2 linked regions of the Homo sapiens genome follow. The protein of the gene in region 1 purifies or fractionates together with the protein of each later gene. This does not show direct contact. Each region holds a gene or a part of one and is shown in the gene's direction. Other genes may lie near its edges.

The links.
Region 2: the proteins of WDR37 (region 1) and TAF5L purify together in Homo sapiens (affinity purification with mass spectrometry, with the first as the bait; one large-scale study listed by BioGRID). This does not show direct contact.

The regions. Positions count from the first base shown.
Region 1 is NC_000010.11:1,062,179-1,067,546, forward strand, and holds part of WDR37 (WD repeat-containing protein 37), read left to right. Parts: intron 1-5,368. UniProt on the Homo sapiens protein: Required for normal ER Ca2+ handling in lymphocytes. Together with PACS1, it plays an essential role in stabilizing peripheral lymphocyte populations.
Region 2 is NC_000001.11:229,602,123-229,606,555, reverse strand, and holds part of TAF5L (TAF5-like RNA polymerase II p300/CBP-associated factor-associated factor 65 kDa subunit 5L), read left to right. Parts: exon of another isoform or gene 1-138; intron 139-362; exon of another isoform or gene 363-437; intron 438-3,636; coding exon 3,637-4,361; coding exon of another isoform or gene 4,362-4,367; exon of another isoform or gene 4,368-4,433. UniProt on the Homo sapiens protein: Functions as a component of the PCAF complex. The PCAF complex is capable of efficiently acetylating histones in a nucleosomal context. The PCAF complex could be considered as the human version of the yeast SAGA complex.

The DNA.
Region 1 (5,368 bases):
GGAGGTGATTGTAGGAAATGCATACATTTGGTTGTAGTTGATCAGCAGAAAAAGATTGCCGGCGGTATTGACTATTTTGTGAAGTGGCGAAGAAAGCAAGCTAAACCAAAGAGAACACCATGCAACTTACGGAGAGGCTGGAATAGCCAGTGAGATAAAATCAGTGATCCAAAACTTATAATTTTGATGAGAAAGGAAAGGTGATATTGTAATCTCTGCATTTTTGGTAACGAACTTGTAGAATGTCTGGAATGCATCAGAATGTTTCTACAGATGAAGTTCTTAAGAGAGGGAAGGGAAACCCTTTGCTGGTTTTATTTGCTTCATTTAACTGAAGATAGAGTCTCCCTTTTTCTCTGAGGCCATATCAGGACAGCTTTCACAGGCTTTTGATGTGGTTTCTTTTTTTCCTTTACAAAACATACTCCATAAACTACAAAGTAACTGTTTTATGTTGTAAAGCAAGACTTACTTCTCCTTTAAAAATAGGCCTACACATATGCAATTTGAGAATAAAAGATGATTCTTGGCTTTCTGCTTGCGGAAAGATGGAGACTTATTTTTCCTTATTCCTCCCATGAAGTACATCTAAAAACACTGGACATATATAAAACAAATGTAAGAGTGGGCCGGGTGCAGTGGCTCACGCCTGTAATCCAAGCACTTTGGGAGGCTGAGGCGGGCAGATCACAAGGTCACAAGTTAGAGACCACTCTGGTCAATATGGTGAAACCTTGTCTCCGCTAAAAATACAATAATTAGCCAGATGTGCTGTTGGGCACCTGTAGTCCCAGCTACTTGGGAGGCTGAGGTAGGAGAATTGCTTGAACCCAGGAGGTGGAGGTTGCAGTGAGCCAAGATTGTGCCATTGCACTCCAGCCTGGGGAACAGAGCGACACTCTGTTAAAAAAAAAAAAAAAGAGACTGAAAGATGGAGAAAAGAAGGTAGACTTCCTTCGTACATTGGGACCACAGAAATGACACCAAACTTAGTTCTGTGAGTTTTCTTTTTGCCTCATGTATCTCATATGTTGTGCTGGATAAGCTAGCAGCGCAGGTATAAAAGGACTCAGACAAAACAAGGCCCAAGAAAAGCCTGCTCTCTGTGTCTGAAAGACCAGGAAAGGGGCAGCCTACAAATCACAGAACTTTTCGATGGTAAGTACTTTCCTCCAGCTAAATATCACAGGAAACCCTGCAGCACCACCCTCACCCTGCTAATCAGAGAACTTTTCGGCGGTAAGTACTTTCCTCCAGCTAAATATCACAGGAAACCCTGCAGCACCACCCTCACCCTGCTAATCAGAGGCTGAGCAGGTACTTCAGATTCCCACTCATGACAAGCTGGGATGAGATGCTCCTCTCTGCAGGGTTGCTGTCAGAGAAGACTGGCTGAGGAGTTGGGGTTTTACTTCTGCTGGGTGGTGACAGAGCACAGCCTCCTTTCTGCTAGGGTATCATAAGAGGGACCTTGCAAAACTCAGGAACTTTACTGCTGCCCTGTGGTCATGAGGCCACCCCCCTGTGGTGTGGGGGAGACTGTATAGGGAGCAGCACGGAGGCAGCCCTGATTCAGCCTTGGTGGTGGGAGTGGAAGTTCGGCAGGAGGCTGAACTTTCCTTCTCATGCAGGGGTCCGTGGAGGCTGAGTGGGAATCTCAACTTCCACCTCACCGTCCACATCCACCTGGCAGAGGCCTGCTCTAACAGAAGACTTACATCAGATCCTGAGTCTGATGTCAGGATTTCAATGGAAAATCACTCATAGGAAAATCTCAACCTCAGTAAGAAAAGACCACTGATGCCAACGTAGAGATGACACAGAGTTTAGAATTATTTGACAAGGACCTTAAAGCAGCGATTGTAGAAATGCTTCAATAACCAATTAACATTCGAGACAAACGACAAATAGCCTCAGGAAGAAAATACAGGATGTAAAAAAGAAACACAAAATTTCAAAAGTGAAAAATAGAATATGTGAAATAAATTCAGTGGATGGCTTAGCAGCAGAAAGGAGAGGACAGACAAAAGAAGCTGTCAATTTGAAGATAGAACAATAGAAGTTACCCAATCTGAACAGCAGAGAGAAAATAGACTGGAAAAAAGTGAGCAGAGCCTCAGGGGCCCGTGGGACTTTAACAGAAGATGCAACATCTGTCATCAGAGGTCTAGAAAGAGAGAAGGACGGGGTGGGGGGAAAACGTGTCTGAAGAAATCACTGCTGTATGTTTCCTAAACTTGGCAAGCCATACACCTTCAGACGTAAGAAGCAGCATAAACCCAGAGAAGATAAACACAAAGATGCTAAGACACATCCAGGCCAACTTCTGAAAACTGAAGACAGAAGCATAGTAAGAGAGATACCACTTGACCTGTAGTGGGAAACAATTTGAGTGACAATGGATCTTTTTTTTTTTTTTTTTTTTTTTTTTTTTTGAGATGGAATCTTGCTCTGTCACCCAGGCTGGAGTGCAGTGGTGTGATCTCAGCTCACTACAACCTCTGCCTCCCAGGTTCAAGCAGTTCTGCCCTAGCCTCCCAAGTAGCTGGGATTACAGGCATGCCACATCACGCCTGGCTAGTTTTGTATTTTTAGTAGAGACGGGGTTTCACCATGTTAGCCAGGCTGGTCTTGAACTCCTGACCTCAGGTGATCTGCCCGCCTCGGCCTCCCTCACGCTTGCTGGAATTACAGTCATGAGCCACTGTGCCTGGCCTGACAGTGGATCTTATCAGAAATTGTGGAGGGCATAAGGAAGTGGCAGGACATTTTTTTCAGGTGCTGAAGGAAAAGGACTATCAACTCAGAATTTTATATCAAGTGAAAACTTCCTTCACATGATTTATCTCCAGCTGACCTACTCTATGAAAATAACAAATAAAGGAAATTCTCCAAACAGAAAGGAAATGACAAAAGAAATGTGGGAACATCAGGAGGGAAGAACAAAGAATGGACAGCAAAAATATCGGTCAATTTAGTATTCGTTTATTTTCTAAATTGTGTTTGGAATTTGAAGCATAACCGTGGTGTGGTTCTCAGTGTATGTGTAGGAAATATTTGTGATTACGTTATAAATGGGGAAAGGTAAAGAAGCATAGAGGAAAGTAAGATTTGTATACTTTATGTGAACTGGTAAAATGTTGATAATCAGTAGACTACAATAAGCTGTAAATGTATAATGTAAAACCTAGAGCTACCACTAAAAAGTTATACAAAACAGGCAAACTCAGAAATACTGTAGGTAAATAAATATGAAATTATAAAAAATGTTTACCCCACGAGAAGGCAAAAAAGAGAATAGAGGGAGAGAGAATGAATGATACACCATGAACAAGTGCAGTTTATTTTGTGGCTACAAGGTTGGATCAATGTTTGAAAGTCATGAGTGTAATTGGTCCTGTCAGTAGGTAAAAAAAAAAAGCTACTAGGAAAAAAACATGATAGAATTCAGCACTCATTCGTGAAAGAAACTCAGAAAATGAATGATAGAGGGAAACGTTTTCAACTTGATAAACAGCACCTACAAAAAAATCTATAGCTGGCATCAAAGTTAATGGTGAAACACAATATTTTCACCCGAATATTCAGGGCAAAGCAAGGGTGTTTGCTGTCACTATAGTAATTTAAGATAGTACTGGAATTTCTAGCCAAATCAATAAGGTAGTAAAAGGAAATAGAAGGCTTACAAACCACAAAGGAAGAAATAAAACTGTCCTTTTTTTTTTTAGATGACTTAATAGTTGACATAGAAAATCCCAAGGAATCCACAAAAAATCTTGAACTTTAGGTTCAGCAAGAATGTACACGTTTAATACATAAAATCCAGTTGTATTTATACTAGCAATTAACGTGGAAACCAAAATAAAAGTACAGTATCATTTAAACTTACACAAAAAATAAAAAGAGAGATGTTAGTCTAAAATGGAGAAAAGATATGTAGGACTTTTTTTTTTTAGAAACGGAGTCTTGCTCTGTCACCCAGGTTGGAGTGCAGTGGCGCGATCTTGGCTCACTGCAACCTCCGCCTCCCGGGTTGATGCCATTCTCCTGCCTCAGCCTCCTGAGTATCTGGGACTACAGGTGCCTGCCACCACGCCCTGCTAATTTTTTGTATTTTTTAGTAGAGACGGGGTTTCACCGTGTTAGCTAGGATGGTCTCGAAGTCCTGACCTTGTGATCCGTCCACCTTGACCTCCCAAAGTGCTGGGATTATAGGCGTGAGCCACCTCGCCCAGCCCGATACTAGGACTAATGCAGAAAAAACCTTGACATGGAGGAAAGTAAGATCTAAATAAATACTGTATTCATAGATTAAAAGACTCAGCATAATAAATATACCATTTCTCCCCAGATTGATGTACAGATTTAACACAATTCCTATCAAGATCCCAGCAAGATTTTTGTAGATATGTAAAAGATTATTCAAAAATGTAAAAGGAAGGACAAAGGACTAGAATAGATAAAACAAAATGGAGAAAGATTTAATAGGAATCACTGTAACTGATTTTAAGACATACAGAACAATAATAGAAACTGCTTGTATTAGTCCATTTTCACGCTGCTGATAAAGACATACCTGAGATTGGGCAATTTACAAAGGAAAGAGGTTTATTGGACTTACAGTTCCACATGGCTGGGGAGGCCTCACAATCATGGCAGAAGGCAAAGAGGAGCGAGTCACATTCTGCGTGGATGGCGGCAGGCAGAGAGGGAGAGCTTGTGCAGGAAAACTCCCCCTTATAGAACCATCAGATCTTGTGAGACTTACTATCACGAGAACAGCACGGGAAAGACCTGCCCCTCCATGATTCAGTTACCTCCCACTGGGTCCCTCCCACAACACATTGGAATTCAAGATGAGATTTAGCTGGGGACATAGCCAAACCATATCACTGCCGTTGGTGGAAGGATAAATATGTAGATCGGTGGAACAGAATAGAGAACCAAGAAATAACCCCACACAAGTACAGTGAGTTGATTTTTTGACAAAAGTCCAAAGCAGTTCAATCTAGGATGGATCATCTTCAACAAATGAGGCTGGGATAATTGGATACACAGGTGAAAACAAACAACAAAAAAACCTTGACTTAAATTTTACACCTTATAAAAAGGTCAGTACCATATAGGTAATAAATTTAGATGTGAAACAGAAAACTATAAAAAATTCAGGAGAAACAGGAGAAAATGTTTGGCCCCTAGGGATTCATGAAAAGTTCTTGTCATGACTTTAAAAGTGTGATGCATAGAAAAAATTATCAACATTAAAGAAGTGTTGCTTCATGAAAAACTCTTAGAATGAAGAGCAACAGATTGGGAGAAATGATTTGCAGCTTAACCTATGTGACATATAATTCATACTATAGAGTAT
Region 2 (4,433 bases), on another chromosome or scaffold:
CTTGAAGAAAGGTAGAGGAGAATGAGGACCGACAGGATTAGTTTTGTTTAATTTAGTATCCTTTTTACTACTAATTTCCATGAACTCATGAAAAACTCCATTGTTCTCTCATTTACCGCCAGTAGAGTTGGGCACCAGGTAGGCATTCATTACATTTCAGTGGGTAGATAGAAGGAAGAAAAAGTGTACTTTCAGAGGATATGTTTGTTACTTTTGCAGTTAGAAAAAAATATATTTTAAGTGAGTACACTTTCAGTAAAATACAGAGTATGTTAGATTGCAAGGGAATAATTTAAAATGGGAGTTAGAATTCTGAATCTCACCTTCTTCCAAATTGATCAGTTTTTTTGTTTTATACCCAGCATACTGTTCTCTTCAGACAAGAGAGAGCAATTAAGCAATTTTGAACCTATGAGCTGAAGCAACAGTGAATTTCAGTAAGTTTTAAAGTAGTACATCACTATTTCTTGATAGCTAGGTTTTTTTCTAAACTTACTCAATTGAAATGCCTCTCATTTTAGAAAAGGAGCCTGAAATTTTGTTTCTAAGGAATTGAAAACAATCCTTCATCCCAATAAAAAACAAAGGGAAAAGAAAAACCAAAATCTAGTCACAGTTCTCGAAAGAAACAGCCAAGAGCCAACAGGATGGATATGTAGAGGTTTACTTTAAGGAATTGTTCCATGCAATTGTGGAGGCTTGGCACATTCAAAATCAGGGCGGGCCAGCAGGCTGGAGACCCAGGAAAGAGTTAGTGTTGCAGTTCAAATCCAAAGGCTCTCTGCTGGCAGAATTCCTTCTACTAGGGGAAGATAAGTCTTTTTCTATTAAAGCCTAAACTGATTGATTGATTGATTGGATGAGGCCCACACTTTATGGAAGGTAATCTGCTTTACTCAAAGTCTACTGACTTAAATGTGTTAATCTCATCTAAAAAAAAAAATACCTTCACAGAAACATTTAAAATAATGTTTGACTGAATATCTGTGTGCCGTGGGCCCCCCCACAGTTTGACATGTAAAAGTAACCTCACAAGTCCACTCCTTATTAACTTGGCACCTGTATGCATCTCCTTATTCCATACTTAATCTCCAAATAAAGAGAATAACAAGTTCATACTTCCACCTAACCTAATAAAATTATCCTGTGTACAACCAAAAAACACACTAACCTTTTCCCCGGAGGAGAATGCAAAGTCCTTGGATGATGTTTACTCCTCTCCGTGATATTCCATAATTTTGATACGGTGAGGTAAAGTTAACAATACTTAAATACTATGATATGGAGTCAGTAATCTGGCCAGGCACAGTGGCTCACACCCTTAATCCCAGCACTTCAGAAGGCTGAGATGGGTATATCACTTAAAGTCAGGAGCTCAAGACCAACCTGGCCACCATGATGAAACCTCATCTCTACTAAAAAAAAAATACATATATATATATATATACATACAAAAATTAGCTGAGCGTGGTGTCACACGCCTGTAGCTACTCAATAGGCTGAGGCAGGACAATCACTTGAACCCAGGAGGCAGAGGATGCAATGAGCCGAGATCGCGCCACTGTACTCCAGCCTGGGTGACGGAGCGAGACTCCATCTCAAAAAAATAAAGTCAGTAATCCGATGTTCCATGATAAGGGAACGAGAAAGGAAAGAATGCGAAGATATTTTCTTTTTATATATCTATATATAGATATTCACACCAAAACATTCGTAACAAAACAAGAAATACAACAATTACAGTCCTCGTTTCTGTAGCTGGTCACATGGTGGTTGCTGGTATTCATGGTTGCCTCTTTCCACTACCCATTCTGTATTCCCTTTGCACTCATCTCGCAAGCTGATCGTGGTTTACCTGGTGGGGTGACCCAAACCTTCATTCTTCAGGGGTGTGGGCCATTCATAGTCCTGTATGGATTGTTGTCATTTTTATCGACTGTAATCACAGGGCAGGGTACAGAGATGTCCTAAGGGATCTCCTTAAGCCAGACATACTCCTCCTTACCTCCATTGTGTAGCAGTTCCAGTTCCTCTTGGGCAGGATCAATTACCCCAGCCAACACTGTAACTCCCTTCCTTGCCTATTGATTCAGAGGTGTGAGGAGCCCAAAGTGGCTGGGTGGCTGTCTTAACTTCCAGTTCAGTGGAATGATTGTAATTTTTCATCCTCTAAATAATGAGTAGGGATACATTTATTCTAAAATGCATATTATGAATATTATGCAGCAGATTCATTCACCTTGTGATAAAGTGAAATAGGGTGTTAAGCAGAAATAACATGCAGATATCTTTTATCATCAAATTAGGGAGCAAGATTCTCTGATGCAGTATTCCTCAGTCTTAAACCCTGTATTGATGCCTTTTCATGAAAAAAAAAAAAAATGCTACCAGAACATAAGTGCTGACTTAAAACATTTTTATTTTAATTTATTTAAATATGTACAAACATTACACTAGATCTAAAACCTTTATGCTTATTATATTTCTTTATGAAACCCAGACTCATTACAGATAAGGGACAAGCAAAACCCCAAAGGCAGTCAAGTTGAAAATAACACTGAGTGAATGTAACGGATGGATTTTGCCAGAACTACCTTGCTACTGCAAGCAGGCATCTGGACAGCACTGGTGACTGTGACACGGGCTGGTCTCAGCTCCTTGGGGGGCTTCTGCCCTGCAGTGGCCCTGCTGTCTCCCCACTGTGTATGAATCACATCGAAACCTTTGCTCCCTCACAGCATGCCTTAAGCACTTATTTAGGTGTCAATTATACCTCTGTTCTTTTCTCATTCACCCATGAATTCAAGCTGTACACCTTTTAAATAACATTCTCTGTCTTACAGTTTCATGGCGCTAAACTCCCAAGTTAGTAAGTAGTTGAGTCTTAATGACGTAAAATGGTCTTATTTGTAAATTATCACTGCAAAAGAGAATTTAACTTGTTAACCAACAAAATCAGAATGAATATGCTGATGAGACAATTGTTAATGAAGGCTGTCATGTTAACACAGGACACGCCAGCCTGTATAACCAGACATGTTAATGAGCCCACTAAAATAAGTGCTTTGATTTTACTTGAGACAATGGATGCCAAAAGTAATCACAAAACACAAACTAGAGCACTAAAATCACTTGTCAGTACTTACTTGTTAAGCGGACATCCAGATAATTCTGAATATACTGTGTGTTGATTATTTTTTATATTATCATCACATTAAAAAATTGTGAAGAACTCAATCTTCCAAGAATATGTCTAAGTACCCTCAGATATCTGAGGTCCCCAATTTGAAGAAACACTAACATATTGGGAAAAAATACTAAATCTTGAAGACCTGGGTACAAGCCACTGTATTGTTGTGAACTCTGGCAAGTCACTTAACCACTCTGGGCATTAAGTTCCTGCGTTGTGCCCAACTTCAGGCCCTGATTTGCTGGACTTCAGAGTTCATGCTCTTTCTTCAATCAAAAGGCCTTTGAAATTCCAGAATCCTGTGTTGGGCTTATAGTTCAATCAGTACTCTTAAAAAATGGGGTCCTGGCAAGAAAGCATTATATGATGGTGGTGATCCCCAGGAGGGATCACGTTATTCTGTAAGATTATGCTGATTATAAAGCCTTCTTTTTCTTTCATTATAGATTCTGATTCCCAGCATAGCCACGAAGTGATGCCTCTCCTCTATCCTCTCTTTGTCTACCTCCATCTCAACCTGGTCCAAAACAGTCCGAAGAGCACAGTGGAAAGTTTTTACAGCCGCTTCCATGGAATGTTTCTGCAGAATGCTAGCCAGAAGGATGTCATTGAGCAGCTACAGACCACTCAAACCATCCAGGACATCCTATCTAACTTCAAGCTTCGAGCATTCCTAGATAACAAGTACGTGGTCCGTCTCCAAGAAGACAGCTACAACTACCTTATCCGCTACCTCCAAAGTGACAACAATACTGCCCTGTGCAAAGTCCTCACCTTACATATTCATCTTGACGTGCAGCCTGCCAAGAGAACAGACTATCAGCTGTATGCCAGTGGCAGCTCCTCCCGCAGTGAGAACAACGGTTTGGAGCCCCCCGACATGCCCAGCCCTATTCTGCAGAACGAGGCTGCCCTAGAGGTCTTACAGGAGAGCATTAAGCGAGTCAAGGATGGGCCTCCCTCCCTCACTACCATCTGCTTCTATGCCTTCTATAACACAGAGCAGCTGTTGAACACTGCAGAAATCTCCCCCGATAGCAAGCTGCTTGCTGCTGGGTTTGACAACTCCTGTATAAAACTTTGGAGTTTACGATCCAAGAAGTTAAAATCAGAGCCCCACCAAGTAGACGTGTCCCGCATCCATTTGGCTTGTGATATTCTGGAGGAGGAGGTATGAATACCATTTTTTTCTTCCCTGCACCCGCCTTCCTAATTTCCTTAGAATGTCCTTACCAAACACGAC